Regions from separate parts of the Homo sapiens genome. Here region 1 is linked to region 2. The links come from fine-mapping of genetic effects on gene expression. A gene starts in region 2. The other region holds a variant in brackets. All regions are shown on one strand. Distances are from middle to middle. Region 1 holds the start of LOC124909452 (a long non-coding RNA gene). Region 2 holds the start of GFM1 (G elongation factor mitochondrial 1).

Region 1 (14,721 bases), 290 kb after region 2:
TTTTACCAGATTAAACAAGAGCCCTTCTATTTCTACTTTGCTAAGAGTTTTTACATAAACACCATGGAATACTATGCAACCATAAAGAGGAATGAGATCATGTCCTTTGCTGGGACATGGAGGAGCTAGAAACCATTATCCTGAGCAAACTAACACAGGAACTTATAAGTGGGATGCTGTTCTCACTTATAAGTGGGAGCTGAACAACACACACTGGGGCGTGTGTGTGTGTGTGCACGCGTGCATGCGTGTGGGCTGGGGAGGGGTCTGGGGAGAGGGAGAACATTAGGATAAACAGGTAATGCATGTGGGCCTTAATACCTGGGTGATGGGTTGATAGGTGCAGCAAACCACAGTGGCACACATTTACCTATGTAACAAACCTGTGCGTCTTGCACATGTACCCTGGAACTTAAAATAACATTAAATTTTTTAAAAAAGTTTTTTAAATTATTAATGACTGTTAACATTTATCAAATGCTTCTTCTGAATCAATTAAGATGATCATGATTTTTTTCTCTTACTAGTTAATGTGGTTAATTATAATTTTCAAATGTTAAACCAACCTCGCAGTCCTAGAGTAAACCCCATTTGGTAATTGTGTAGTATCGTTTAATATCTATATCTATATTGCTGTTTTCTTGTATATATTTTCATGAGAGAGATTGGCCTGTAGTCTTGAAATGTCTTTGTCATGTTTTGATAGAGAGGTTATGCTGACCTCTTTTCTATTGTCTTTTTGTATTGTCTGAAACAATTTGTATTTTGAGTGAGGTCATCTTCGTCTCTCAAGACCAGCCCAGTTGCCAGCTGAATACCACTGAATGAACAAGTAAGTACAGTTGGCCCTCAGTATCTGTTGGCTCCACACCTATGGGTTCAACCAATTTCAGATCAAAAATACTTTTTAAAAATTCTGCAAAATTCCAAAAAGCAAAGCTTTAATTTTCTGTGTGCCTTGTGCTATGTTGAATCCATGTGAAGTGATATGCAAGCATTGTATTAGGTATTATAAATAATATAAATATAGGTTATGTGCAAATACTACACCATTTTATACAAGAGACATATAAAATCAGAGAATTCTCAGATGTTGGTATCTGTGAGGGATCCTAGAGCCAATCCCCCATGGATACCAAGAGATGATCATATATACATAGTGATACTACCATTGGTTAACTGTGGGACTATGAGAAAGTCACTTCTGAGACTCAGCTTCATCATCCATAAAATGCTACAGTTGAATCTTTAGGTAAAGTCTAGCTTTAATGGCCTGTGATTCCCTTTCGTTCTCTATTTCTTGGAATGTGCCGTGAAGATTGTGCTTTGCAAAGTGCTTTGAGCTGTTTTTCCTCACTCCTACAAGATGGCGATTCTAATGCTCTCAAGCATTTGTTTTGAAATTTATATTGAATTATTAATAAAGTATCCTCTGTGGAGAATAAGTTGAATATAGTAGGGAACTCAAGACATATGAAGATCTCAACTAGGAAATATCTGTCCTTTTCACTTGGTAGCCAAACTGTCACTGGAGATGAAGAGAGGGCCTTGGCCACTGTGCCAGGTGTGCCTGCTACAGTTCTTGGAAAACAGAGGCTGCTCAGTAGAGGAGGGTGATATATCTTCCTGACAAAGCTCCTGCCAGGAGACGATGTGCATAACTCAGCCCTGAGCCTTTCTATGAGCTCTGCCAAATCCGACAGACAGGTAACAAAACACTGAAAAAAAAGTAATGTCAGCCCAGCCTGGCGAGTGCCAACACCGCTCCCTTAATTACTCTACCTAGTGACAAAAGCTATTCATCAAACTCGAAATAAAGTGGTTTTAAAGTCAGAAATTTATGTGCCAGCCAGTGAGAGGCTGTAATTTTGGGGGCATTGGTTTAAAGCAACATAAAGCAAGATGAAAACAAATTGGAGAGCCAGGTAACTTTTCATTTACACAATGGCACCATCAGGTTTGTCTTTGGTTCTTTCTGATTTTCTCACCATGTCTTTCTCCCCACATTCTAGCCAAATAAAACTTTTGATCCAGGCCAAGATCCCATCCTGAAGCCAAAAGGAAGATTAATTCATTCTTGATTTACTTATTAAACATTTGTTGTATTAAATAAGTAGAGTGAAAAGAAGGCCGAGTAATCCTGGAGGAATTTATTTATTCAACAAGCATTGACTACCTACAATGTGCCAGACATCAACAAAAGGGCTAGGAAAATGGTGGTAAACAAGACAGCAAAGAAATGTTTTCTTATGGAGCTCACATATGTATACAGAAGAAAACGTAAATACATAAGAAGATGTGGATAGTGATAAATGAGAATGATGGGGGGTGGGCAGGGAAACACAAGAAGAGGCATGTGGAAATGTAAGCACTAGAGCAGCGGTCTACTTAGTGCATCTGGTGAATGGAAAATGGGCCAGTGTGGCTGGTGTGGGAAAGAGTGGAAATAGACAAGGTCGGAGAGGTTGACAGGGCCAGATCAAGAAGGGCCTTTGAGCCAGAATGAGGAGTGAGGATTTCATTCCAAGTACAGCATAAGCCAATGGAGAGTTTTAAGCACAGTGATCATGTGACCAACACTTATTGAAAGTGAAGGATTTGAAAGGGTTTTTGCAAAAGAAGTCATTATCTAATTCAAGATTTATTGAGCTTAAACAATTATTGAACCTTTGTTATGTGCCAGGTGCTGACGACAGAAAGATGAATAAGATGCTGACTCTGTCCTCGAGGTACATACAATCCAGTGGAGACACACAGTCTTGTGCATGAATAAGAACAACATGGCAATAATGAGCAACAGTGCCTTTGTGGGGCAAAGTCATGTGGTGCCACTTCCATCTGTTTTATTAACAAACAGAACATGGTCTCTTAAAAGAGGCTTTTCTGGATGTGCTTTTTGTTTTTTTAAGTGCTGAAAGGTATGTACTACATTCCAGAAGATAAATATGCCCCTAGTTTGGCTCTCCCAGAGGAAGTGTGAGCATTCTAAGAAGAGGCACAATGGAACCAAACGTCTCAAGACTTGTGTTCTCTTCCCTACATGGTTGGGAGACACTGAAATGAGAGCAGGTGTTTTTGGGAATCCAGTCTTCATTTTCTTCATCAGTAAAAGAGGGTTAAAATATTTGCTCTATAAAGTCCCCTCTAGCTGTCTCATTCTGAAACCCAAGGGAAGCTTTGTCTGGATCATTCATTTATAGGCTACATTTTTGCCTTAGTAATAGGGAATACTAACTTTGAACCCCAATAAAGCAAAATGTTATCCCCCAAGGAGAATTATAGTCTTCCCATTAGTAGATGTATATTGCAAAACTTGTACTTAATTATGATTATTTAAAATTTTTGAATATTTGTAAAAATTTTATAGAATTTTAAAAATGCTTTTGAATTTTAACAACTTGTAGAATATTTTTTTCTCTCTTGTCTAGCTAGGTACCTATATTATATCCTTGATTTTGTCTCATGTCCTGAAAAGCCTAAAATGTGGATCTTTATCAAAAAAGAATGCCAAATCTTGTTTTAAAACTGGAATGCTGTGGAACACAATGTTTCCCAGAGAGAAATCCCTGAAATTCTATTCCCACTGATCTTCAATGCAGAAGAGGTACCATGGTCAAATGAAGGCCCTGACAATTCCTGAAGTAATAACAAATTCACGACCACAATCAAATGAACGTGCAAATCCATTTCACTGTGTTTAACTGAATGTTTTTCAATATCTGTGAAGACAGACTGTTCATTGGAAAACAATCCTCAAAATGCACATTGGGCCCTGGCCGTGAGCTGGGTTCTGTCTGGCACACTCCTGTGTTCTCTAGGCATGTACTTTTATTCAAAGCCTCCAGCTGCAATGGTAGGGAAGTCTATGTTTGTTTCAAGTTATAGTCTTTCCCCTTTGCTGGACCATCTTGGCTGCAAACTGGGAGCCACACATGCCGAAACAATACATTTTCCTCCAAATCCTGGAACTGTTCCTTCCTAAAGTCCCATGCCTGGATGCCAGTGGAAGCAGTCTGGCCTCAGATTGAGGAGATCTGAATCTACAGACAATGTAAGACATTGAAGTTGCTTTTCCTTATAGAGGTGAGGGGTTTGAGTCATGTCACTTACATTCTCTTGCTTGGTTTCCCCTGTGACTCTAAGAACATTGTGCAGCACACTGTTTCCCCCTCAGTTTCCTTGTGGGACATCTGAACCCAATGCATGCAGGGGCTGAACTCTGTGAAGCTCTCACTGGGTTCAGATGAGCAGGGCTTGTGCCCTAACTCCTCTCCCTCTCCAAGCACTACCATTCCAATAATAACTGCTATCTCTTTTGAACTTTGTGAACCACCTGAGCAGGCTATGACACTAGCCTTTAGCAGTGGCCAGAGTGATTCACATGGCACCTGCAGGGCCAAACTCATTGAGGGACATTGTTAGACAGTGTTCAACAACTGAGGCATAGATAACAGTTGAATGAGTGAACAAATGCCATTCAGCCCCAGAGAGTTGCCTCCTGGTAGGCAGGGACTTGTGCAGTGTGAGGATTCCAGACTGCTGTCTGTGCAAGGGATACTATGTAGAGAGGAGGCAGGGCAGGAAAATTGAACAAGCATAGGTTTGAGTCCCAGACCCGCCAAGCAGCCAAATATCACCTTAATCAAGTTTTAAAACTATTCCTGGGGATGAGTTTTCTTCTGGAATACCTACCTTGCTAGATTCTTGTGATAATGAAGGCTTCATAAGGGAACTTATGTGACAACTATGAAGGATCTGACACATGGTAAGAACTCAACGGATTACAGTGATGATAAAGCAGTTATTAGGGTTGAAGGCCTCATCAGCCATCACCCCGTCGACTCCCTATATTCAAGATGAGGTGACTTAATCAATATGCCAGTCAGTGGGGGAACCCAGGTTTCCTCAGTCCTAGTTTAGTGCTCTGTTACACATTTCTGCCTTCAATTATACATTAATTTCTGAAAGAAAAATTGCAGTTCTAACCTTGAATATCCCTGTAAATTCTGGCTTTGCATTGAAACCCGAAGGATGGGTACCTGGCCTCCAGTGTTTGTGGGCTGCTCAATGGGACTTTTTAACCACAAAGCTGAGAACATTGCCTTCTAGAAAGAGGGCATCTCTCTTGCTGACACTCACAGGTTGCCAGGCTGGGACTTGGGAACACCAGGCTCACAAATGCCCCATACATGTGAGCAGTTGGCTAGTCTATGTCTCATGCCTTGAGGAAGGTGAAAGATCCTCGAGCCATTGTATTGCTGTCTCACCACACACCTGGCTGGAGCTAGACTTCTGGGGCTTGGCTGAAGTTTTGAAGGAACCACCTGAGGTGACTCAGGTAAGTAGCAACAAGGCAGGGAGGAGAGAAGCAGAGGCAGCAGAAGGGAAGAGAAGGACAAAGGCACTCGTAATAGGCTGGAGCAGGCAATGGTTTTCTTCCTCAAGAAAACAATATACACCATGTCTAGATTCCTTGCCAGACTAGCCTATAAAAATTGCATTAAACACATAAGCCTTATGAGCTATAATACTCGTGAACTGTTAGAGTTACCGAAGTTTCTGTGAACTAGACTGAGTACCTCCTCACTTAGCATTTTCATAGTCTTATTATTAATTACTTTATTATAAAAATATCAAAGTATACTGAAGAGTATAAAATAAGTCTTTTCCCTTACTCTGTCCCCAAACTGATCCAACTTCTAGAGTTTTCTGTTGATAGTTTCTTATATATCTTGCAGATATTTTCTCTATATACGTAACTGTAGTAGGTATAAAGTCCACAAACATCACTCAGAAAGTGACATTTGAAGTGTCACTGGAGGAGGACAGGAAGTGAGCCATGTAGCTATAGGGGCTGGGGAATTCCAAAAAGAGTGAACAGCAAGTGCTGAGCCCCTGGATGAGAGTGGTGGGCTTGAGGAGTGGCAAACAGGCCCTGAGGCTGGAGTGCAGGGAGGAAGGAGGAGATGTGTGGGTTGAGCTGGAGAACCCACAGGGCTCCGTCGGTCAGGGTAGGGGCTTGGGCTTTAACTGAGTAAAATGAACATCTGTGAGCAGAAGCACACCATGATCTGACTTATTTTTAATAGCAGGGAGAATCATTTGGAAGCTATTGTATAATCATCCAGGTGAGGGATGATGGTAGCAAGAATCTTGATGGTAGTGGAGTGTAAAAATAATTGGATGCTGGATATATTTTCACGGTACAGCTAATGTGATTTGTTGTTGGATTGGTTGTGGAGTGTGAGAGGATGAGAGGAATGCAGGGCAACTTCTAGATTTGGTTGCTGAATAGCCAGAATAACATGGTGGCAAATTCATGGTGGGGCCAGTATTCCAAACCAAGCCTACTGGGCGCGGGTTCTCTACTTCCTGCTCTATACAGTCTTGCCTCCTGGGCACCACACAACCTTCCACAACACTGTGCTGTGGTAAAAGTTTGCACTCCAAGGCAAAGAACAAAATGTCAGAATATTGCCTTCCATTGAGTTGGAACCTTTTTAGATCAAATCAGTCATAGTGTCTGAAAGGGTGTTCTTTTGGTCATTTCTGATATTTAAAAGATGCTTACTAGAATCCAGGTGATTCATCTCTAGAATTCTGGACTCACTTGTTGGGAATGATTGAACTGGACCATTACTCCAGAAAGTCTTATATTTCTGTTTTTGGTGACTACACTCTCTGTGTGAGAGTTTTGCTGTGTTTTTTGTTCATCCATCACTTTCTGTGCCTTATAATGAAAACAGTGAAGACAAATGTGCTATTTATAATTTTCTTCCTGGAGTCATTTCAATTAAAAATTAATTAAATGTCTTCACATCATAATTTTAAAGTATTCTATCAGCAATGGTGAGACAACATAAAAGCTGTAAGAATCCCCAAGTCTAAAATAAACTTATGCAAATACCTTTTCAAAATGCCACTGTGTGCATAGACAGCATTACTTAAACATGGTTAGTACTTTTATGTCTTTATTAATTTTATTAAAGTATAGAAAGGAAGACTTGGGATTAAGGGGTATTCAGGGAAGACATTTGCAAAGTGTTAGAGTATAGCATGGTAGGGGCTGTTGAGGTTTCTTTGCTTTAGAACCACTGGTTCTCACATTTTGGTGCCTACCAGGAAACACTTGAACTGGTAAAGTGCATGAAGGCCTGGGTTCACTGAAGTAGGATATGGACTGGGTCTTTCATATTTTTGTTTGGTTCCCTGGGTGATTTTGAATACCCATGAAAATGTGAGAGCTACTGCTTTAGAGGACCACACTTCCTTAGTATTTTGAGTCAGTGATTCTGGATTCTGAACATGACACACCAGGAGGTAAAATCTGTTCTGCTCAATGCTTTGGGTGCCTTAGGTGTGATATCCAACTCCCGCCTTCCAGGAATATGATGTCTGAAAATGGCTGAAGTCAGCAGGGGTCCCAAACATTTCATACCTAGAAACACCTAGGTATGACACTCTTTCCTTAGAAACTGAGCTGTGGAATTCTGGAGTTCCATTGATAAGACCGCAAATGTGTGGATTTGCAGGTGACATATTGGTTTGCACCAAAGCAATTCTCTTATTTCTCTGCCAAATGCATCTTTCCCTATAGGGGCCCCCAAGTCTATTTTTCTGCCAAGAAACCCACGGTGGTTATAAGTGAGGGAAGGGAAGGCTGTGTGGACTAACTCCAACGTTAGAGATGAAGTCCTCCCTAATGAAAGGCAGCAGGAGATACAAATCTAAAGTCAGGGGAGACAGGGTTACTGCAGGATTTAGACTATTTTAATTCCACATTTTATTTCCATTGTGGGAGAGAAAGACATCCTTGAACTTCCCAATAATAGTAACTGTTAAAAAGTGCTAAGTATTGTCCCAAAA[G/A]CATTCTGGACAATATTTTAATTATCCTCATAAACTCAACTGAAGATTCAGTATTATGCTCATTTCACAGAAGAGGAAATGGAGGTACAGAGAACCTGCCCAAGGCCATGCCAGCCTGTTACGGGAGCTAAGACCCAAACCCAGGCTGACTGGTTGCAAAGTATATAATTTTAACCATTATGCTCTGCTGTCTTTCAACCTAGCAGGATTTATGCCCCTCTACCCCACTCCATTATGCAGGCCTAGGAATCATAAATGGGAGTGATACAGAGAGACGAATACTCCAAGGCAGCCCTTCAGACAATTGAGGTGTCTGGTGTCAGGCAAGACAACTGGGGGCTCCTGGGAGCCCTCCCTTGTCTGAGAAACAAGGTCCAGGGTGGGATGAGGGTGGGGGTGGGGGCATGCAGGGAGGTGGTCAGCTGGAACACAGTGGCACAGCTGAACTTGTTCCTTATAGGTGGCATCCATTGTGACTGGGCAGTGCCTGCAGCATACCAGTCCTTGAATGTTCTGTATGTCACTCCTGGGTGTATGTTCTTCTCCCTGAGAACCATTGTTGGCTTGAAGATAGGCCCCTGAATTATCATGGACCTTCTTCTAGGACAGAAGAGAGAGGCCAGTTGTTCAGTGGGCCGTCAAGTGCTGCTGACAAGTGGCAAGCTGTGAGCTACTGGGAAGCCTTGAGTTGTGGAGTGGGAATGGTGGAGGGTAGAGGTGGTTCAGTGGATAGGATGAACACCATGATCCCCAGGGCAAGATTTCTAAAACTTGAGTAATATAAGGATCCCTTCTAAGGGAAAAATATTACAGCATATCTCCAGTATAAAATTTATTCTTATTATAGTATTACTACTTAAGGCTCAAACGAAACATTAATTATAAATCTTTATCTTTATGAATTATAAAACTAAATTTAACAAAAACATATGCAAATGACAATAACAATAAAATTCAAGTTAGTAGTACTGATTTAATGTGATAGATGCTGTTGCTTTGCTGAAACAGCCACACCTTGCAATACATCGATGGCGTTGGCACTACAGGCTCTTTGGATGCAGGACCTCCACTTCACATGTGATAGGATGACTCGGTTAACCTTGTACAGTTTTCTACTGCAAGACCTTTGTTTGTCTGTGAAGTCCTTTGGCTCCCATCATATGCAAAAATGTTATTGATGAGTTATGTCGATCTCTGAAGAACTCCTTGGTGCCAATGTGATTGTGATACAAACTTGGGTACAATGTTGTATGATGGTTATAAGTGGGTGATTATATAGATAATAAATAATGGGCCTATTTAGATTTTTTTAGATTGATTTGGGATTATGTTCCACTGGGAATTAAGCTCTTATAAGAGCAGGGGCTTTGTTTTGCTCTCTGCTGTATTCTCAGTGCTGAGCACAGTACCTAGAACAGCTCTGCCCAATAGACATAGAATCCAACCATAGGTAGGAGTCACATATGCAATTTAGAATTTTCTAGTAGCCACATTTCAAACAGTGAAAGAACAGGTGGAATCAACTTTAATATATTTTATTTAGCCCAATATATTCAAAATACTATCATTTTTATGTGTAATCAATATTCAAATTATTGAGATATTTTACATTTTTCTAAGTTTCCAAAATTTGGTATGAATTTTACATTTAAAGCATGCTCAAATAAGGCTAGCCACCTTTCAAGTGCTCAATCATCACATGTGGCTAGTGGCTACTGTATTGAACAATATAGATATAAAAGATAATAGGTGCTAAATAAACTTTAAAAAATATTGCTGTATGAAGGATAAAAAGAACTTTCAGGTCCTCAAACCTTCAATCATTCTGGTTTCAGTGATTCTGATGCTGTCTCTCATATTATAGTGGGGAAGCAGCAAAAGAAGTGATTCTAAACCTCTTCTCACTTGAATAAATGCAGTGGCATCCTCCTACCCAGTCTCCTTGCATGCAGCCTTGCTCCTTTGTAATCATTGCTACCCAGGACAGCTAGACTGCCTTTTCCTAAAATGCAAAGCTTAAGTCCCTCCCTCATTCAAAAACCCTCCAGTGGCTTCTCTTCAACATTAAAATAAAGTCCAGTTTCCTTAGCATGGATTGGAAGGCCTGTGATGATCGGGCCCTTATATTCTCTTCTGCTCTCCTTAAAGTCTCTGCCCCATCCAGACTGGATTTATTCCTGTTTTTTTTTTCACATGCTGCGTCATGTGCCTGCAACATTCCTTTCTGCTCCTCATTCCTTGGCTAACTCCTCCATATCCATCAAGTACAGGTTAAAATGTCACTTCTAGGAAGCCCCCCCTGACCCCATGGACTGTGTAGCTCTCCGATTCTTGCTGCTGTGTACTGCCCTAGTTAAATATTCCTCACTCGCACATCCCACATCAGAACCCTCTTTTCAGGAACTGTGCCTCCTACTTTTTGGGAACTGGGATAACTAAGGAGAAAGACAAAGGCTGACTTGGATTGTAGAGGACTGGTAGATTTTATTATCACAAAGTGTGGCAGAAGTCTTGGGAGAAAGGAAATGGACATTTTCTACCTAGTTAAAAATGTTATGCTGGCCAGGCGTGGTGGCTCACGCTTGTAATCCCAGCACTTTGGGAGGCTGAGGCGGGCGGATCACGAGGTCAGGAGATCGAGACCATCCTGGCCAACACGGTGAAACCCTGTCTCTACTAAAAGTACAAAAAAATTAGTCAGGCGTGGTGGTGGGCGCCTGTAGTCCCAGCTACTCGGGAGGCTGAGGCAGGAGAATGGCGTGAACCCTGGAGGTGGAGCTTGCAGTGAGTCGAGATCATGCCACTGCACTCCAGCCTGGGTGACAGAGCAAGACTGTCTTAAAAAAAAAAAAAAGTTATGCTAAGGCTTAAGTAAATTGCAGAAATCCCATTCTTCCTATCACCATGTGGACCAGGGAATTATTCCAGTTAAGGTCAGCTGGCCCCTGTGTCTTTTTTCAATTGGGAGATGTGAGTTTTGGAAAACTTGTGGCTCCTCTGTCCTTGAGTATTGAGGGTTCCTCCTAGGTCCTCCCCCTCATCAATTAAAATGACTCACATAGCAATGATATTTAGCATACATATCAACTAGAACAGTGGTTCTGAACCAGAGGAACATCTCAAAATCACCAGGGAGTTTTGCTAAAATACAGCTGTTACATATCTGCTCTCCCCTACTCCCCCTCTAGGCCCATGAATCAGAATCTCTCAGGATGGGGGCCAGCAATATGTACTATGTGTGGGCTTCTCAGTCAACTGATATTTCATCTCTGGTTAAGAATTATTGAGCCAGGGTAAGAGAAGAGCAAAGTAGTCTAAAACCAGAGGCTTTGCAGATTATGATGGGTGGTTTCTTAAGGCAATGTAGATGGCTGGGGGTAATATTTCCTATTCTAGGAGCACAGTCTGGAAGAACTATTAGTGTGGGAATGGATAGCTGGTATTGAAAGGCAAGAGAATTCTGAACCCAACTGATCAGGCTTTATTTGTTCCTTGTGCAACTCATAATCTTAAGTTTTTATTATTGCACAGCTGCCAATTTGATTTTTCAATGCAAATAAAAGTCTGATGTGTTATGACACTTTGCATTTGTTCACTGTATCTATTAAAGGATGAAATAGTTTATTAAAAATTGTTCTCAAACCACATTCAAACACCTGTTGATAAGGACAAGTTAGCAGAGTATAATGTGATATTTCATCATCTATTGGCCGTGGGGCTTTAGAGGTGAGGTTTAAAAGTAGCACCAGTATATTTGGGATGTGGGGATTGAGGGAGACATAGTGTTGCCCACCATAATATTTTACATTTTTTCAACACATACTTAGTGAGGGCATGTGATGTGCCAGATCTGGTTTCTAGCCGTGGAAACAAAGACCCAAATCCATGCCTTCACAGAGCTTACATTTTAATGGAAAAAAAATAAATGAATAAATAAGTTATATAGTATTATAGATGTGGTAATTACTATGGAGAAAAAGCCTAAAAGGAGGATAGGCGTTATTGTGTGTGGAGTGGGAATGGACAGGAGAGTGGTGGTGACATTTGAGCACAGACCTAGAGGAGAAAAGGGATGAACCATGCGGGTGTCTGGGAGTAAAGTGTTCCAGATGGAACAGTAAGTGCAAAGGCCCTGAGACAGGAGAATATTTGGAATGTCTGAGCGGGAAGAGCATGGTAGGAGATGAGGTTGGGGAGGTAATAAGGGGCCTGGGTGGCTACAGCAAGGTGGTCAGCTTTTACTCTGAGATGACCAATCATTGCCAACTTTTGATCTAAGATGTAAGAGACATAATTTTAAAAGGATCATTTGGATGATGGATGGAAACTGCACTCTCCAGGGACAGTGGTGAGGCAGGAAGACCCTTTAGGAAGCTGTTGCAATATCCTAGAAGTGGCTGGGACCTAGGTCACAGAGGTGAAGGTAGTGAAGAGGAGGGCAGATTCTCAATACATTTTACAGGTAGAGCTAGGAGGATTTGCTGAATGCAGGGTGTCTGAAAGAAAGTGAAGGATGAGGCAGATTCCTGGCCTGAGCAACTGGAGGGGCGGGGTGGCAGTTCACTGAGGTGGGCAAGATCATCGGGAGGCAGGATGTGGGCAATGCCTGGAAGTTCAGGAATTTGGTTCAGACCAGTTTACAAAAGTGAGTCGTCGTTTGGTTGGTTGCAGCACTCAAATTGCTGCTATGCAGAGTTGCTGATTCTAAAGTCTTAGTGCATCATTAAGCCTTCTAAGAAGAGGCACAATGGAACCACACGTCTCAAGACTTATGTTCTCTTCCCTACATGGCTGGGAGACACTGAAATGAGAGCAGATGTTTTTGGGAATCCAGGCTTCATTTTCTTCATCAGTAAAAGAGGGTTAAAATATTTGCTCTATAAAGTCCCCTCTAGCTGTATCATTCTGAAACCCAAGGGAAGCTTTGTCTGGATCATTCATTTATAGGCTACATTTTTGCCTTAGTAATAGGGAAGACTTTGGACCCCAATAAAGCAAAATGTTATCCTCCAAGAAGAATTCTAATCTTCTCATTAGATATGTATTGCAAAACTTGTACTTAATTATGATTATATTTAAAATTTAGAGAAAACATTATGAAAGACTTTTTAAGAAATTAGATCAGGGCAGAAAATTTTGGAGAATCTTTTTTCCTGCTAGAAAATGACCAACAAAAGTTGTCACTTGATCTGAGTTAGTGAGGTGGCAGGAAGCATTAACACTCGGAGGAGGGCACGAATCCGGTGTGCAGACTCCACAGGCAGGGGACAAACCAAGTCCTTTTCTTTCGCAGCTGGAAGGCGGGTAGCCTAGGCAAGTTCTCAAGCCCGCTCGCCCTCCACCTGGAAACAGACTTGGGGCTTTTGGCGGGGCTCGGTGAGAGTGAGACCGGCCCTTTGGTTTGCATGACAGCTGGGTGAGGCCTGTGACTGCCGGCTTTCCCCCACTTCCCTGAAAACCTGGATGACTCAGCAGAGGCAGCCATAATCCTCCTAGGAACTTAACTCCATTAACCTGGGAACCTCACTCCCATCCCCCACGGCAGCTGCAGCAAGACCTGCTCAAGGAGAGTCTGAGCTCAGACATGCCTAGCCCTGCCCCCACCTAATGGTCCTTCCCTACCCACCCTGGTAGCTGAAGACAAAGGGCATATACTTTTAGAAGTTCTAGGGCCCTGCCCACTGCCTCTTCCTCCCCATACTACCACAGCTGATGCTGTCTTGAAAGAGCCACCTCCCTGGCAGAAGGCCAACCAGCACGAAAATAGTGCATTAATCAACCAAAGCTAAGGACCCTCACAGAGTCCATTTCACACCCCTGCCACCTCCATTGGAGTGGGTGCCAGTATCCAAGACTGAGAGACCCACAGATGGTTCACATCACAGGACTCTGTGCAGACAACCTCCAGTACCAGTCTGGAGCCTGGTAGATTTGCTGGGTGGCTAGATCCAGAAAAGAGATTAACAACCACGACAGCTAGACAGTTCAGCTCTCAGGTAGCCACATCCCTAGGAAAAGGGGGAGAGTACTACATCAAAGAAATACCTCATGGGACAGAAGAACTGAACAACAGCCTTGAGCCCTAGACTGTCCCCCTGATAGCCTACCCAAATGAGAAGGAACCAGAAAACCAACTCTGGTAACATGACAAAACAAGGTTCTTTAACATCCCCAAAAAAATCACACTAGCTCTCCAGCAATGGATCCAAACCAAGAAGAAACCCCTGATCTAACTGAAACAGAATTCAGAAGGTTTGTTATTAAGCCAATCAGGGAGGCACCAGAGAAAGGTGAAACCCAATGTAAGGAAATTAAAAAAAAATGATATAAGAAGTGAAGGGAGGAATATTCAATGAAATAGCATAAATAATGAAAACTTCAGGAAACAATGGATGCACTTATAGAAATGCAAAATGCTCTGGAAAGTCTCAGTAATAGAATCAAACAAGCAGAAGAACTTCAGAGCTCAAAGACAAGGTTTTTGAATTAACCGAATCCAACAAAGACAAAAAAGGATAAGAAAATACGAACAAAGCCTCCAAGAAGTCTGAGATTATGTTAAATGACCAAACCTGAGAATAATCAGCATTCTTAAAGAGAAATCTAACAGTTTGGGAAATATATTTGGGGGAATATTCGAGGAAAACTTCCCTGGCCTTGAAAGAGAACTAGACATCCGAATACAAGACACTAGAGGAACACCTGGAAAATTCATCACAAAAAGGTCATTGCCTAGGCACATGGCCATCAGGTTTTCTAAAGTTAAGAAGAAGGAAAGAATCTTAAGAGTTATGAGGCAAAAACACCAGGAAACCTATAAAGGAAAACCTATCAGGTTAACAGCAGATTTCTCAG
Region 2 (14,848 bases):
GGTACCGGGTTCATCTCACTAGGGAGTGCCAGACAGTGGGCGCGGGCCAGTGGGTGTGCGCACCGTGTGCGAGCCGAAGCAGGGCGAGGCATTGCCTCACCTGGGAAGTGCAAGGGGTCAGGGAGTTCCCTTTCCGAGTCAAAGAAAGGGGTGACGGACGCACCTAGAAAATCGGGTCACTCCCACCCGAATACTGCGCTTTTCAGACCGGCTTAAAAAACGGCGCACCACGAGACTATATCCCACACCTGGCTCGGAGGGTCCTACGCCCACGGAATCTCGCTGATTGCTAGCACAGCAGTCTGAGATCAAACTGCAAGGCAGCAGCGAGGCTGGGGGAGGGGAGCCCGCCATTGCCCAGGCTTGCTTAGGTAAACAAAGCAGCGGGGAAGCTCGAACTGGGTGGAGCCCACCACAGCTCAAGGAGGCCTGCCTGCCTCTGTAGGCTCCACCTCTGGGGGCAGGGCACAGACAAACAAAAAGACAGCAGTAACCTCTGCAGACTTAAATGTCCCTGTCTGACAGCTTTGAAGAGAGCAGTGGTTCTCCCAGCACACAGCTGGAGATCTGAGAACGGGCAGACTACCTCCTCAAGTGGGTCCCTGACCCCTGACCCCCGAGCAGCCTAACTGGGAGGCACCCCCCAGCAGGGGCACACTGACACCTCACACGTCAGGGTATTCCAACAGACCTGCAGCTGAGGGTCCTGTCTGTTAGAAGGAAAACTAACAAACAGAAAGGACATCCACACCGAAAACCCATCTGTACATCACCATCATCAAAGACCAAAAGTAGATAAAACCACAAAGATGGGGAAAAAACAGAACAGAAAAACTGGAAACTCTAAAACGCACAGCGCCTCTCCTCCTCCAAAGGAACGCAGTTCCTCACCAGCAACGGAACAAAGCTGGATGGAGAATGACTTTGACGAGCTGAGAGAAGAAGGTTTCAGACGATCAAATTACTCTGAGCTACGGGAGGACATTCAAACCAAAGGCAAAGAAGTTGAAAACTTTGAAAAAAATTTAGAAGAATATATAACTAGAATAACCAATACAGAGAAGTGCTTAAAGGAGCTGATGGAGCTGAAAACCAAGGCTCGAGAACTACGTGAAGAATGCAGAAGCCTCAGGAGCCGATGCGATCAACTGGAAGAAAGGGTATCAGCAATGGAAGATGAAATGAATGAAATGAAGCGAGAAGGGAAGTTTAGAGAAAAAAGAATAAAAAGAAATGAGCAAAGCCTACAAGAAATATGGGACTATGTGAAAAGACCAAATCTACGTCTGATTGGTGTACCTGAAAGTGATGCGGAGAATGGAACCAAGCTGGAAAACACTCTGCAGGATATTATCCAGGAGAACTTCCCCAATCTAGCAAGGCAGGCCAACGTTCAGATTCAGGAAATACAGAGAACGCCACAAAGATACTCCTCGAGAAGAGCAACTCCAAGACACATAATTGTCAGATTCACCAAAGTTGAAATGAAGGAAAAAATGTTAAGGGCAGCCAGAGAGAAAGGTCGGGTTACCCTTAAAGGGAAGCCCATCAGACTAACAGCGGATCTCTCGGCAGAAACCCTACAAGCCAGAAGAGAGTGGGGGCCAATATTCAACATTCTTAAAGAAAAGAATTTTCAACCCAGAATTTCATATCCAGCCAAACTAAGCTTCATAAGTGAAGGAGAAATAAAATACTTTACAGACAAGCAAATGCTGAGAGATTTTGTCACCACCAGGCCTGCCCTAAAAGAGCTCCTGAAGGAAGCGCTAAAGATGGAAAGGAACAACCGGTACCAGCCGCTGCAAAATCATGCCAAAATGTAAAGACCATCGAGACTAGGAAGAAACTGCATCAACTAACGAGCAAAATCACCAGCTAACATCATAATGACAGGATCAAATTCACACATAACAATATTAACTTTAAATGTAAATGGACTAAATTCTCCAATTAAAAGACACAGACTGGCAAGTTGGATAAAGAGTCAAGACCCATCAGTGTGCTGTATTCAGGAAACCCATCTCACATGAGGAGACACACATAGGCTGAAAATAAAAGGATGGAGGAAGATCTACCAAGCAAATGGAAAACAAAAAAAGGCAGGGGTTTCAATCCTAGTCTCTGATAAAACAGACTTTAAACCAACAAAGATCAAAAGAGACAAAGAAGGCCATTACATAATGGTAAAGGGATCAATTCAACAAGAGGAGCTAACTATCCTAAATATATATGCACCCAATACAGGAGCACCCAGATTCATAAAGCAAGTCCTGAGTGACCTACAAAGAGACTCAGACTCCCACACATTAATAATGGGAGACTTTAACACCCCACTGTCAACATTAGACAGATCAACGAGACAGAAAGTCAACAAGGATACCCAGGAATTGAACTCAGCTCTGCACCAAGCAGACCTAATAGACATCTACAGAACTCTCCACCCCAAATCAACAGAATATACGTTTTTTTCAGCACCACACCACACCTATTCCAAAATTGACCACACAGTTGGAAGTAAAGCTCTCCTCAGCAAATGTAAAAGAACAGAAATTATAACAAACTATCTCTCAGACCACAGTGCAATCAAACTAGAACTCAGGATTAAGAATCTCACTCAAAGCCGCTCAACTACATGGAAACTGAACAACCTGCTCCTGAATGACTACTGGGTACATAACGAAATGAAGACAGAAATAAAGATGTTCTTTGAAACCAACGAGAACAAAGACACAACATACCAGAATCTCTGGGACGCATTCAAAGCAGTGTGTAGAGGGAAATTTCTAGCACTAAATGCCCACAAGAGAAAGCAGGAAAGATCCAAAATTGACACCCTAACATCACAATTAAAAGAACTAGAAAAGCAAGAGCAAACACATTCAAAAGCTAGCAGAAGGCAAGAAATAACTAAAATCAGAGCAGAACTGAAGGAAATAGAGACACAAAAAACCCTTCAAAAAATCAATGAATCCAGGAGCTGGTTTTTTGAAAGGATCAACAAAATTGATAGACCGCTAGCAAGACTAATAAAGAAAAAAAGAGAGGAGAATCAAATAGACACAATAAAAAATGATAAAGGGGATATCACCACTGATCCCACAGAAATACAAACTACCATCAGAGAATACTACAAACACCTCTACGCAAATAAACTAGAAAATCTAGAAGAAATGGATACATTCCTTGACACATACACTCTCCCAAGACTAAACCAGGAAGAAGTTGAATCTCTGAATAGACCAATAACAGGAGCTGAAATTGCGGCAATAATCAATAGTTTACCAACCAAAAAGAGTCCAGGACCAGATGGATTCACAGCCGAATTCTACCAGAGGTACAAGGAGGAACTGGTACCATTCCTTCTGAAACTATTCCAATCAATAGAAAAAGAGGGAATCCTCCCTAACTCATTTTATGAGGCCAGCATCATTCTGATACCAAAGCCGGGCAGAGACACAACCAAAAAAGAGAATTTTAGACCAATATCCTTGATGAACATTGATGCAAAAATCCTCAATAAAATACTGGCAAACCAAATCCAGCAGCACATCAAAAAGCTTATCCACCATGATCAAGTGGGCTTCATCCCTGGGATGCAAGGCTGGTTCAATATACGCAAATCAATAAATGTAATCCAGCATATAAACAGAGCCAAAGACAAAAACCACATGATTATCTCAATAGATGCAGAAAAAGCCTTTGACAAAATTCAACAACCCTTCATGCTAAAAACTCTCAATAAATTAGGTATTGATGGGACGTATTTCAAAATAATAAGAGCTATCTATGACAAACCCACAGCCAATATCATACTGAATGGGCAAAAACTGGAAGCATTCCCTTTGAAAACTGGCACAAGACAGGGATGCCCTCTCTCACCGCTCCTATTCAACATAGTGTTGGACGTTCTGGCCAGGGCAATCAGGCAGGAGAAGGAAATAAAGGGTATTCAATTAGGAAAAGAGGAAGTCAAATTGTCCCTGTTTGCAGACGACATGATTGTTTATCTAGAAAACCCCATTGTCTCAGCCCAAAATCTCCTTAAGCTGATAAGCAACTTCAGCAAAGTCTCAGGATACAAAATCAATGTACAAAAATCACAAGCATTCTTATACACCAACAACAGACAAACAGAGAGCCAAATCATGAGTGAACTCCCATTCACAATTGCTTCAAAGAGAATAAAATACCTAGGAATCCAACTTACAAGGGATGTGAAGGACCTCTTCAAGGAGAACTACAAACCACTGCTCAAGGAAATAAAAGAGGATACAAACAAATGGAAGAACATTCCATGCTCATGGGTAGGAAGAATCAATATCATGAAAATGGCCATACTGCCCAAGGTAATTTACAGATTCAGTGCCATCCCCATCAAGCTACCAATGACTTTCTTCACAGAATTGGAAAAAACTACTTTAAAGTTCATATGGAACCAAAAAAGAGCCCGCATCGCCAAGTCAATCCTAAGCCAAAAGAACAAAGCTGGAGGCATCACACTACCTGACTTCAAACTATACTACAAGGCTACAGTAACCAAAACAGCATGGTACTGGTACCAAAACAGAGATATAGATCAATGGAACAGAACAGAGCCCTCAGAAATAACGCCGCATACCTACAACTATCTGATCTTTGACAAACCTGAGAAAAACAAGCAATGGGGAAAGGATTCCCTATTTAATAAATGGTGTTGGGAAAACTGGCTAGCCATATGTAGAAAGCTGAAACTGGATCCCTTCCTTACACCTTATACAAAAATCAATTCAAGATGGATTAAAGATTTAAACGTTAGACCTAAAACCATAAAAACCCTAGAAGAAAACCTAGGCATTACCATTCAGGACATAGGCGTGGGCAAGGACTTCATGTCCAAAACACCAAAAGCAATGGCAACAAAAGCCAAAATTGACAAATGGGACCTAATTAAACTAAAGAGCTTCTGCACAGCAAAAGAAACTACCATCAGAGTGAACAGGCAACCTACAACATGGGAGAAAATTTTCGCAACCTACTCATCTGACAAAGGGCTAATATCCAGAATCTACAATGAACTCAAACAAATTTACAAGAAAAAAACAAACAACCCCATCAAAAAGTGGGCGAAGGACATGAACAGACACTTCTCAAAAGAAGACATTTATGCAGCCAAAAAATACATGAAAAAATGCTCATCATCACTGGCCATCAGAGAAATGCAAATCAAAACCACTATGAGATACCATCTCACACCAGTTAGAATGGCAGTCATTAAAAAGTCAGGAAACAACAGGTGCTGGAAAGGATGTGGAGAAATAGGAACACTTTTACACTGTTGGTGGGACTGTAAACTAGTTCAACCATTGTGGAAGTCAGTGTGGCGATTCCTCAGGTATCTAGAACTAGAAATACCATTTGACCCAGCCATCCCATTACTGGGTATATACCCAAATGACTATAAATCATGCTGCTATAAAGACACATGCACACGTATGTTTATTGCGGCATTATTCACAATAGCAAAGACTTGGAACCAACCCAAATGTCCAACAATGATAGACTGGATTAAGAAAATGTGGCACATATACACCATGGAATACTATGCAACCATAAAAAATGATGAGTTCATGTCCTTTGTAGGGACATGGATGAAATTGGAAACCATCATTCTCAGTAAACTATCGCAAGAACAAAAAACCAAACACCGCATATTCTCACTCATAGGTGGGAATTGAACAATGAGATCACATGGTCACAGGAAGGGGAATATCACACTCTGGGGACTGTGGTGGGGTGGGGGGAGGGGGGAGGGGTAGCATTGGGAGATATACCTAATGCTAGATGACGAGTTAGTGGGTGCAGCGCACCAGCATGGCACATGTATACATATGTAACTAACCTGCACAATGTGCACATGTACCCTAAAACTTAAAGTATAATTAAAAAAAAAAAAAGAAATCTGTGGAATGACTCTCATAACTCAGAAACTCTGGCCAGTGATCCACCTTTAAAAAGCTATCTCATTTCTGTGTATAAGAAGGTGTGTGTGCTCTGTGTGCATCTCCTCACGGAGCTGTGTGAACAGATGTGAGTTAAGGGCACGTACTTTAATGTGGTTGATAATTTTAATCACATCCTGCAAAACGTTAAGTTCATTTGATACTTTCTGGCTAGCTAGCATTTCTCTATGGACGACTCAGTGTGTAGACTCACATTCAGAAGCAACCTCTTTGACCCGAATAGTGAAACCAGAAAGCTGTCCAGTCATGGCAGCTGCTCTGTCGGTCCATAAACTGACACAAAATAACCAATTCAGTTTTGCTATGTAATCATTCAAAGACTTGACTAGTTCTGCCGCTGTGGTGTTGGTTGGCAACAAAAGTGCACATAACATATCCTCATGCACATCCACCTGAAAAATCACACAAAAACAAGCATTGTTGACTTGTTGTCAACCTCAGTAAATTAATCAACCTGGATTTTGTACCAGAGTGACCCATTAATCCTTTCTTTTCTTTTTTTTTTTTGAGATTGAGTCTCGATCTGTCACCCAAGCTGGAGTGCAGTGGCATGATCTTGGCTCACTGCAACCTCCGCCTCACGGGTTCAAGTGATTCTCCTGCCTCAGCCTCCTGAGTAGCTGGGATTACAGGCGCATGCCACCATGCCTGGCAGATTTTTGTATTTTTAGTAGAGATGGGGTTTTACCATGTTGGTCAGGCTGGTCTTGAACTCCTGACCTTGTGATGCGCCCGCCTCGGCCTCCCAAAGTGCTGGGATTATAGGCATGAGCCACTGCACCCAGCCCCATTAATCCTTTCTAGTAATTGTGCCTCGATATCCTCTGCTATTTCATCATTTCCTCTAATTATGGTGCTAGCCCAAAGAGGCACACGTGCCACCTTTTGAACTGCAGCATCTCCTAAAAGTTCATGACAAATGTCCTTAGCAGCAGGCAGGTTCAATTCTCCAGTAGTAAAGAGCTTCTTAGCTTAGCAATGCTGTTAGCCACTAAGAATGACACTGTCAATGCAGACACATTTGATGGAAGTGGCGGCCTTCAATAATTGCTTCTGTTCTTCGTGTCCACATTTTTTCTTTTGAAAAACTCCAAAGGCTTCTCTTTTTATGTAGGGTGCTTGGTCTCCATGTGGCGAAGCAGTTTTGAAGGTTTCATGGGTTTGTTGGATAGCCGCTTGCCACATATTATATAAAGCAGGCTTGGAGAATGTGAATCACCTGTTGCAGTGAACCTGCAATTTAAGTAGGACTCTAGGTATTTTCTTTCACATGCAGCTTTCCTTTTATTAGCAGTCTTAGAGTTTTCCATTTTCTCATCATTGGGTCTTTCCCCATTTTCAAAGAAGCTCTCCAGTGACATTTGTTTTTTACTCGTTTTGGCTAGAGTTAGGTTGTGGGCTTACCAAAACTGTGACTGAGGCAAGTGCTCAGTGTGGGAAGGAAGCGCGGACGGAAGTGGTAAATAAAATAATGGGCGGGCCACGCAAGACTTTAAAGCCTGCCATCAGATGCAACTGTACAACTGAAATACATCAACTCACTTGCCACTATAAAGCTTGCCACCAGTGCAGCTTTTGTCACTTGACACTCACTGACAGGGTTTTGATATGAATCTGCAAGCAATTGATTTATTATGGTCTCTGTGCAGTCAAACCTCTTTGCTAATGTTAATCTGTATTTGCAGCTGTTCCCCAGCCCTAGCGGCCACACCTTAGCTCCACCTCAGGTCATCAGGCATTAGATTCTCATAAGGAGTGCGTAACCCAGATCCCTTGAATGGATAGTTCACAAGGGGGTTCACACTCCCATGAGAATCTAATGCCACTGCTAATCTGACAGGAGGCAGAGCTCAGGTGGTAATACAAGTGATAAGGAGAGGGTGTAAATACAGATGAAACTTCACTCGCTCGCCCACTGCTTACCTCCTACTGTGTGGCCTGGTTCCTAACAGGCCATGGACTGATACTGGTCTCTGGCCCAGAGGTTGGGGACTCCTGTGTTAGAACATGTAGATGCCAAGTACCTGTGCCAACCACAGGTCCACCTTTGCATACTTGACCTTACCAGTATTTTATGAATATATATGTACAGCTCCCATGTTACCAGTGAAGGGTCTTGACTATGAGTCATACAGGTTCTTGGCGTTTGAACAAAGAATTGGACAAAACACATAAGCAAAGCAATGAAAGAATGGAGCAATGAAGGCACAGATGTGTTGAAACAAAAGTACACTCCACAGCTCAAGAGCACCTGTTACAGAATTTTCTGGGATTTAAATACCCTCTAGAGCGTTCCCATTGGTTACACCCTATGTAAATGAAGGAGTGGCCCATAACCAGCCTGCTTGGTTGCAGGAGGTGACCAATCAGAGGCTGAAGTGAAGTTACAAAGTTACACATGAGGACTTGGCCTGCTACCAGTCTGATTATTTGCCAGAGGGGACCAGTCAGAGGTACTTTCCATTTTTTCATCTGCAATGCAGTGCATTGGGAGTAGCCTCCGATCCTTTTGTTACTTGGGCATGGAGAGGTGGGGTTTTCCTTTTGGTTCAGCTCTAGGAAGTCAGCAGGGCCTTCGGTTCCCTGTCTCTAGACCCTGTTCTCCTGCCTCACCCATAAAGGGAATTCCCTAGAGATACTAAAGGCTGTCTGTCTCTCTTCTGAGCAGCCCACTCTGCCTCTCAGAGTGTACTTTTGGTTTACAATAAACTTTTTTGCCTACTCTTACTTTGTACTTGCTTTCAAATTCTTTTGTGTGGTGAAGTCAAGCACCTGAACCGGCCCACTGACAACAGCAAGGATAGAAGCAGTGAGATCGGTTACAAGGCTATTACAATAGTTCCCTCCAGAAACGGCAGTACTGAGAGGTGGGGAGAAGTAAGTTCTGGATTTTCTTTTTTTTTTTTTTTTTTTGAGACTCGCTCTGTCACCCAGGGTGGAGTGCAGTGGCGTGATCTCGGCTCACTGCAAGCTCCGCCTCCTGGGTTCACACCATTCTCCTGCCTCAGCCTCCCGAGTAGCTGGGACTACAGGCGCCCGCCACCGCGCCCGGCTAATTTTTTTTTGTATTTTTAGTAGAGACGGGGTTTCACTGTGTTAGCCAGGATGGTCTCCATCTCATGACCTCGTGATCTGCCCGCCTCGGCCTTCCAAAGTGCTGGGACTACAGGTGTGAGCCACCGCGTCCGGCCCTGGATGTCTTTTTGAAAGTAGAGCTTACAGGATATGCTGACTGATTAGACCGGAGATGTCACAGCATGGTGTCAAAGCGACTAATATTTTTGGCTAGAATCACTAAAGTTTACATTTATGAGATGGATAAGACTGTGGAAGGTTTGGGGAAGAAGATCCGAAGCTCAGTTTTGGACCTGTTAGGTTCAACATGCCTCTTAACACATCCAAGCAGAATGGTCAAGGATGCAGTCTTCCACATGGACAGGACATGAAATGTCTGACATCGAACAATAACAAATAACATTTTGACATGAGGAAAAGTATTTGTAATTGTAATTGATAGTTCATTCACTATAATTTGTCCACGTTCTTTTTCAGGCCATGTCATATATATACCTATTAATATTTGTAATAGACAATTTTGCTCTTTTCTACTTAAATTGTTATATACATTTCTCCACATTGCTTTATAGGCCTAACAACCATGTTTAAATTCTGTATCTTCATACAGAGGTAATATTTAAAAAAGAAGACGAAGACAAAAGGACTCCCTTCCCTCACCCATATACCTATGCCGTCTTACTGGGAGCAAACACTTCTTTAGCTCCGCAAAGCGATTGCACTTTCTCTTCCAAGTCGGCAGACGGCGCGCGAGCAGCGTAGGCACTGCTCCGCCTCCAATCCAGTTGCTCTTCTTTCTTTTCCTCACTCTCTTTTTCCTCGCGTCCTTTGCCCCGGAAGTGCTCTTACAACATTGGCTGCCGGCGTGACTTTGACCGCTTCCCGGTGCGTTACCGGCAGCTGAACCCACCCGGCGCCACGGGACTTTGACGCGTGCTCTGCGCTTGCCATGAGACTCCTGGGAGCTGCAGCCGTCGCGGCTCTGGGGCGCGGAAGGGCCCCCGCCTCCCTAGGCTGGCAGAGGAAGCAGGTACCGGAGCATAGAGAGGCTAAATCGGGACCATTCCCGGAACCTTGTGATCCCTTCTGGGCAATGGAAGGCCGTGACACCCCCTGGGTCCTCATGACTGACAGCTCCGAATACTGGCAGTCGCTCGTCAGTGCTGAAAAGCACCTCGGTGCCTGCACATTAGCTCGTTAGCTCGTTTGTTTCGCTCTCTGGTATCCCTAGGGTTTAATCAACTAAAAGTGTCTGTCACTCAGATACTTTGATATTTTATCCACCTTTTCTAAGGTTTTTTTTTTTTTTTTTTGCCTCTCTTTTCCCGTGAATAATTGTGCATTTTGGATGTGCAGTCCTATAGGGAAAGGTTTATATTGTATCTTCATTCCATCTAATAGGGATCCCCATCCCCTGCCACCAGAGTAAAGTTAAAACAAGCTTCATGAATTGTTTTTGTTTGGAGGGAATTGGAAATCTTTGGGGGCTGTCTTGGAGCTACTAGCATCACTGCATAGAGCATATAAGTTCTCAAACATATTTGTCATCTGTGAACTACAATAAAGGAGAAAGGGAAAAAAATTAAGTTAAATTTAAGCTAAAATTTGTATTTTCTATTAAAGTATTTTTTGGAGCTGTCTTTGTGATTTTATCTGCCCCAGTGTGTATTTTCAAATCTGCAGTAAAAAGTGTCTCCCATTTTAATTAAATTTAACTTATTCATTAATTAATTTTAAAAGAATACGTCTTTACTGTCTTGTTTTGAAGTCTGTCCTCTGATTACAAGAGTTCCAGGCTTAAAGGTTTCCCCTGGTGCCTTTCTCAAGCTATCTCATATCCAGTGAGATTTCTTGGAGGAATAATGTCCACCATACTCCTTTTAATTGTCTGTTGTTCTCTCTTATAAAAGGTGCATAGAATTGAGCTCTCGTATTTTTTTCAGGTTAATTGGAAGGCCTGCCGATGGTCTTCATCAGGGGTGATTCCTAATGAAAAAATACGAAATATTGGAATCTCAGCTCACATTGATTCTGGGAAAACTACATTAACAGAACGAGTCCTTTACTACACTGGCAGAATTGCAAAGATGCATGAGGTATATATTCACGGTTGATTCCGGATTAATTAGAACCAGATTTTAATTGTTTTGTTGCTATTATTTAATAAAGCTTATAAACCTGAAAGATTAAAACAATGGTAACAGCGGACTTTTGACAGTTAGGCTTATCTGAAAGTTGCTTAAGTTAAGTATCTGTGTTCTGGTTTTATTTTTATTTTTTATAGAAGAGGTCTCACTTTGTTGCTCAGGCTGGTCTCAAACTCTTGGGCTCAAATTATCATCCTGCCTCAGTCTCCCACAGTGCTGGGATTATAGGCATGAGCCACTGCACCTGGCAACTGTTTCCATTTCAGTTAAGATTTCTTTCCTTCTTGGAATGCAGGGACAGAGAAAGTCTGAATTGCTGTGCTTGTGTTTAGGTGAAAGGTAAAGATGGAGTTGGTGCTGTCATGGATTCCATGGAACTAGAGAGACAAAGAGGAATCACTATTCAGTCAGCAGCCACTTACACCATGTGGAAAGATGTCAATATTAACATTATAGATACTCCTGGTGAGTTGGATTCTTGGTTTTATTGCAGCTTCTTTGGCAAAAGCACATTTGGTTCTTTCTCTTACTGTGACCCAATTAGTTTTTGATTGTCAAATACTCAAAAGTGTAACACTGAATTCCTATTAAAGAAGACTAACTTAGGACCTAGAGCACTTCATCCTTATGTAGTTTTCTTGAAAATTTGTGCAAGTAAATTGTGAGTAGGCAGATTCTTGCCTTTTACATATTCTAGCTGATTCTAAAGGTGCCTGTGCCCTAGTATTTTCTTGAAGTGATCTTGCCAGGCCCTGCACCTAAGGGTTGGTGAATAGTATTGGTGAGCTCAGGAATCTACATTCTTATTAGAAGACTTATGTGATGAGCAGAGATACAAAAACTTCTAATAGTGCATATATTAAAAATTCAGATTGCTCTTTAAGACCCTCTCATACTTCATCTTATTCAGGGCATGTGGACTTCACAATAGAAGTGGAAAGGGCCCTGAGAGTGTTGGATGGTGCAGTCCTTGTTCTCTGTGCTGTTGGAGGGGTACAGTGCCAGACCATGACTGTCAATCGTCAGATGAAGCGCTACAACGTTCCGTTTCTAACTTTTATTAACAAATTGGACCGAATGGGCTCCAACCCAGCCAGGGCCCTGCAGCAAATGAGGTAATGAGCCTTAGAATAAACAAAGAGGATGTGATGATCTAGACAGCAAACCTTATATCCAAAAGGGTGATTAATTCACTGTCATTAAACTTTATTCTTAAATTTAGTTTTTTAAATATATTTATGTGAGTTAGTAAGTGGAACACTGATTTTAGTAAATTGGCTTGTGGTATGATCTCATCAACTACCTTATCTCTAAAATGGGGACAATATTACTTAAATTCTAGGGAGGTTGAAGATGAATTCAGAAAACAGTCTGACCGTTTATACTGTTTTGCTATTATGAGAGAAGTTATAATCTAGATTCTAAAAATACCTTGTGTTTTATTTAGACAAAAGATCATCTTTGGTTTTAATTTTTCCTTGAAGCATTTTAATTAATGCCCTTAAGTAGTTTGCCATAGAGATGAGATTTTCTTGTTTTCAGACGGAAACATATTTTCTAGGACAACAGTAACACTTCCTTTCTGTACCAGATAGAACCAGTAGTATTTATAGCATTTTAAATTTTACACAATATTATATATTTCACAAAGCCTTTAAAAAGAGTCAGAATTTCACTTTTCACCTTTTGTAGATGTGCACGTGTAGCTGTAGAGCTCATACTTACGTTTCACATGGCATAGTTGATGGATATGTAGGTGTAAAGTTTATGGTAGTGGACAGGCTGAGAATGGTGTATCTGATGACAAAAAATCTGATGGAAGTGATATATTTGATATGAAAGTGAACATTTTCTTAGTTGGGTGTTTATAACTTTTTTTTGGTAAATTGTTTTTAGTTTTTATCCTTATTTTACTTATGCTTGGCAATAGATGGTCTTTTTTCCCCAAATCTTCTTCTGAATTCCAAGGAAACACTGTTTTAGCATTTATTTGATTACTTTGGTTCATTCTTTTCTCCACTCCCATTTATTTGTTTTCCATTTTGTAACTTCTATAAAGCAGATAAAAATCTGGAACTTCTAGATCTGACCTTCATGCCTTGTCTTTTCTATGGTACTTATTCTTTCTGTCTCCTTCTCATTTTGGATTGGGCTTATGAGAGAAATCTTGGGGTTGATCTTCCAGCTCACTAATTTGATATTCATTTGTGTCTCTTCAGTTACTTAGCTTGCCTGAAAACTTTTTTTTTCAGCAATTGTGTACTTAATTTTCATAAACTTTCTCTTTCCTTGCAACATTTTTATCAGTAGAGGTAATTGTTTCTCAAATCTTTACATTTTATTTTCTTTCCTCTAGTAACTCTCTTCTTGGAGGTAAGTGCTATTAAGTTCACATTTCTCTTTCAAGCTTTTGGTTTCCTTCAAATATTTGGTGATTCTTAGATCTTTAACCATAGTTATAGATGGGAGTCTAGAGTCTAGACTAAACAGTGGTAGCTAGAGCATATTCTTTTCCAGTGAGGATTCTTGCCAGTGAATGCAGTTTCTATTCAGTTTTGAGCCTGGGCCGGGCGCGGTGGCTCACACCTGTAATCCCAGCACTTTGGGAGGCCGAGGCGGGTGGATCACCAGGTCAGGAGTTCAAGACCAGCCTGGTCAACATAGTGAAACCCCATCTCTACTAAAAATACAAAAAATTAGCCAGGCGTGGTGGCGGGCACCTGTAGTCCCAGCTACTCGGGAGGCTGAGGCAGGAGAATTGCTTGAAGCCGGGAGGCGGAGGTTGCAGTGAGCGGAAATCACACCATCACACTTCAGCCTTGGCAACAGGGCGAGACTCTTGTCTCAAAAAAAAAAAAAAAAAAAAAAAGAGGTGGGCTCAGCTATCCTACTATTTAATTTCCTGGCTAGCCCTCCATTATCTGTTCTTCCCCCTTCTGCTTTTGATCCAGTGTATCTGGGGATCTGATGGTAAAACAGTTATTCTGGAGTTCTTTTTGTTGCCTAAATGGGTTTGTGGCTTCCTGAGCTCCTTGAGTTACGTTGTCAGTCTGTTCCCAGCTGCTTTATATTTTCTGTTCTGACCTGATGGTAACACCCTTCTCAGTTCTCCAGTGTCTGCCACTGATTTTTTAAAATATTCATTTTGTCATTTCAAAGGGATTAGGGGAGAAGAAAAAAGGTAAACAAGTGTATTTTTATTTTTCAGGTCTAAACTAAATCATAATGCAGCGTTTATGCAGATACCCATGGGTTTGGAGGGTAATTTTAAAGGTATTGTAGATCTTATTGAGGAACGAGCCATCTATTTTGATGGAGACTTTGGGTAAGTGCTAAAAATACATTATTAAAATTTTAAATTTTAAAAAGCATTAAAAAGAAGGAAAGGATAAGTTCATCAAACGCAGAGTAACTATCTTTTTGAAATGCGACTGCAAGAATACTCTGAGATGGTTTTGTTTTAATACCTTTAATCCTAGTCGCTCCCCATTTTATTTAGTATTTATTCTGTGAGAGACTATGTTACTTTTTGGGTAATATACCCATATCACATTATGGCATGCATGGTGTGGTAGAAGGAGGCCTTCAGTTTGGGTTAGTAAATTTGGGTTAGTGAATGTATTG

The links. PIP is the estimated chance that this variant, and not a neighbour inherited with it, causes the effect. A credible set is the group of variants that fine-mapping cannot tell apart.
Region 1: its variant is the best candidate, but not a certain one, in a credible set for the expression of GFM1 in transverse colon (GTEx, PIP 0.69).

Annotation. Positions count from the first base shown.
Region 1 is chr3:158,923,558-158,938,278 of GRCh38, forward strand. It overlaps LOC124909452 (a long non-coding RNA gene), which reads left to right and starts at 385. Exons shown (of 2, transcript XR_007096143.1): 1 at 385-832; 2 at 1,518-11,803. RefSeq lists enhancers at 12,747-13,328, 12,888-14,087. The variant G/A (reference allele first, on the strand shown) is at 7,867.
Region 2 is chr3:158,634,609-158,649,456 of GRCh38, forward strand. GFM1 (G elongation factor mitochondrial 1) reads left to right here and starts at 9,919. Exons shown (of 18, transcript NM_024996.7): 1 at 9,919-10,107; 2 at 11,021-11,173; 3 at 11,557-11,689; 4 at 12,135-12,339; 5 at 14,433-14,549. The coding sequence starts at 10,027.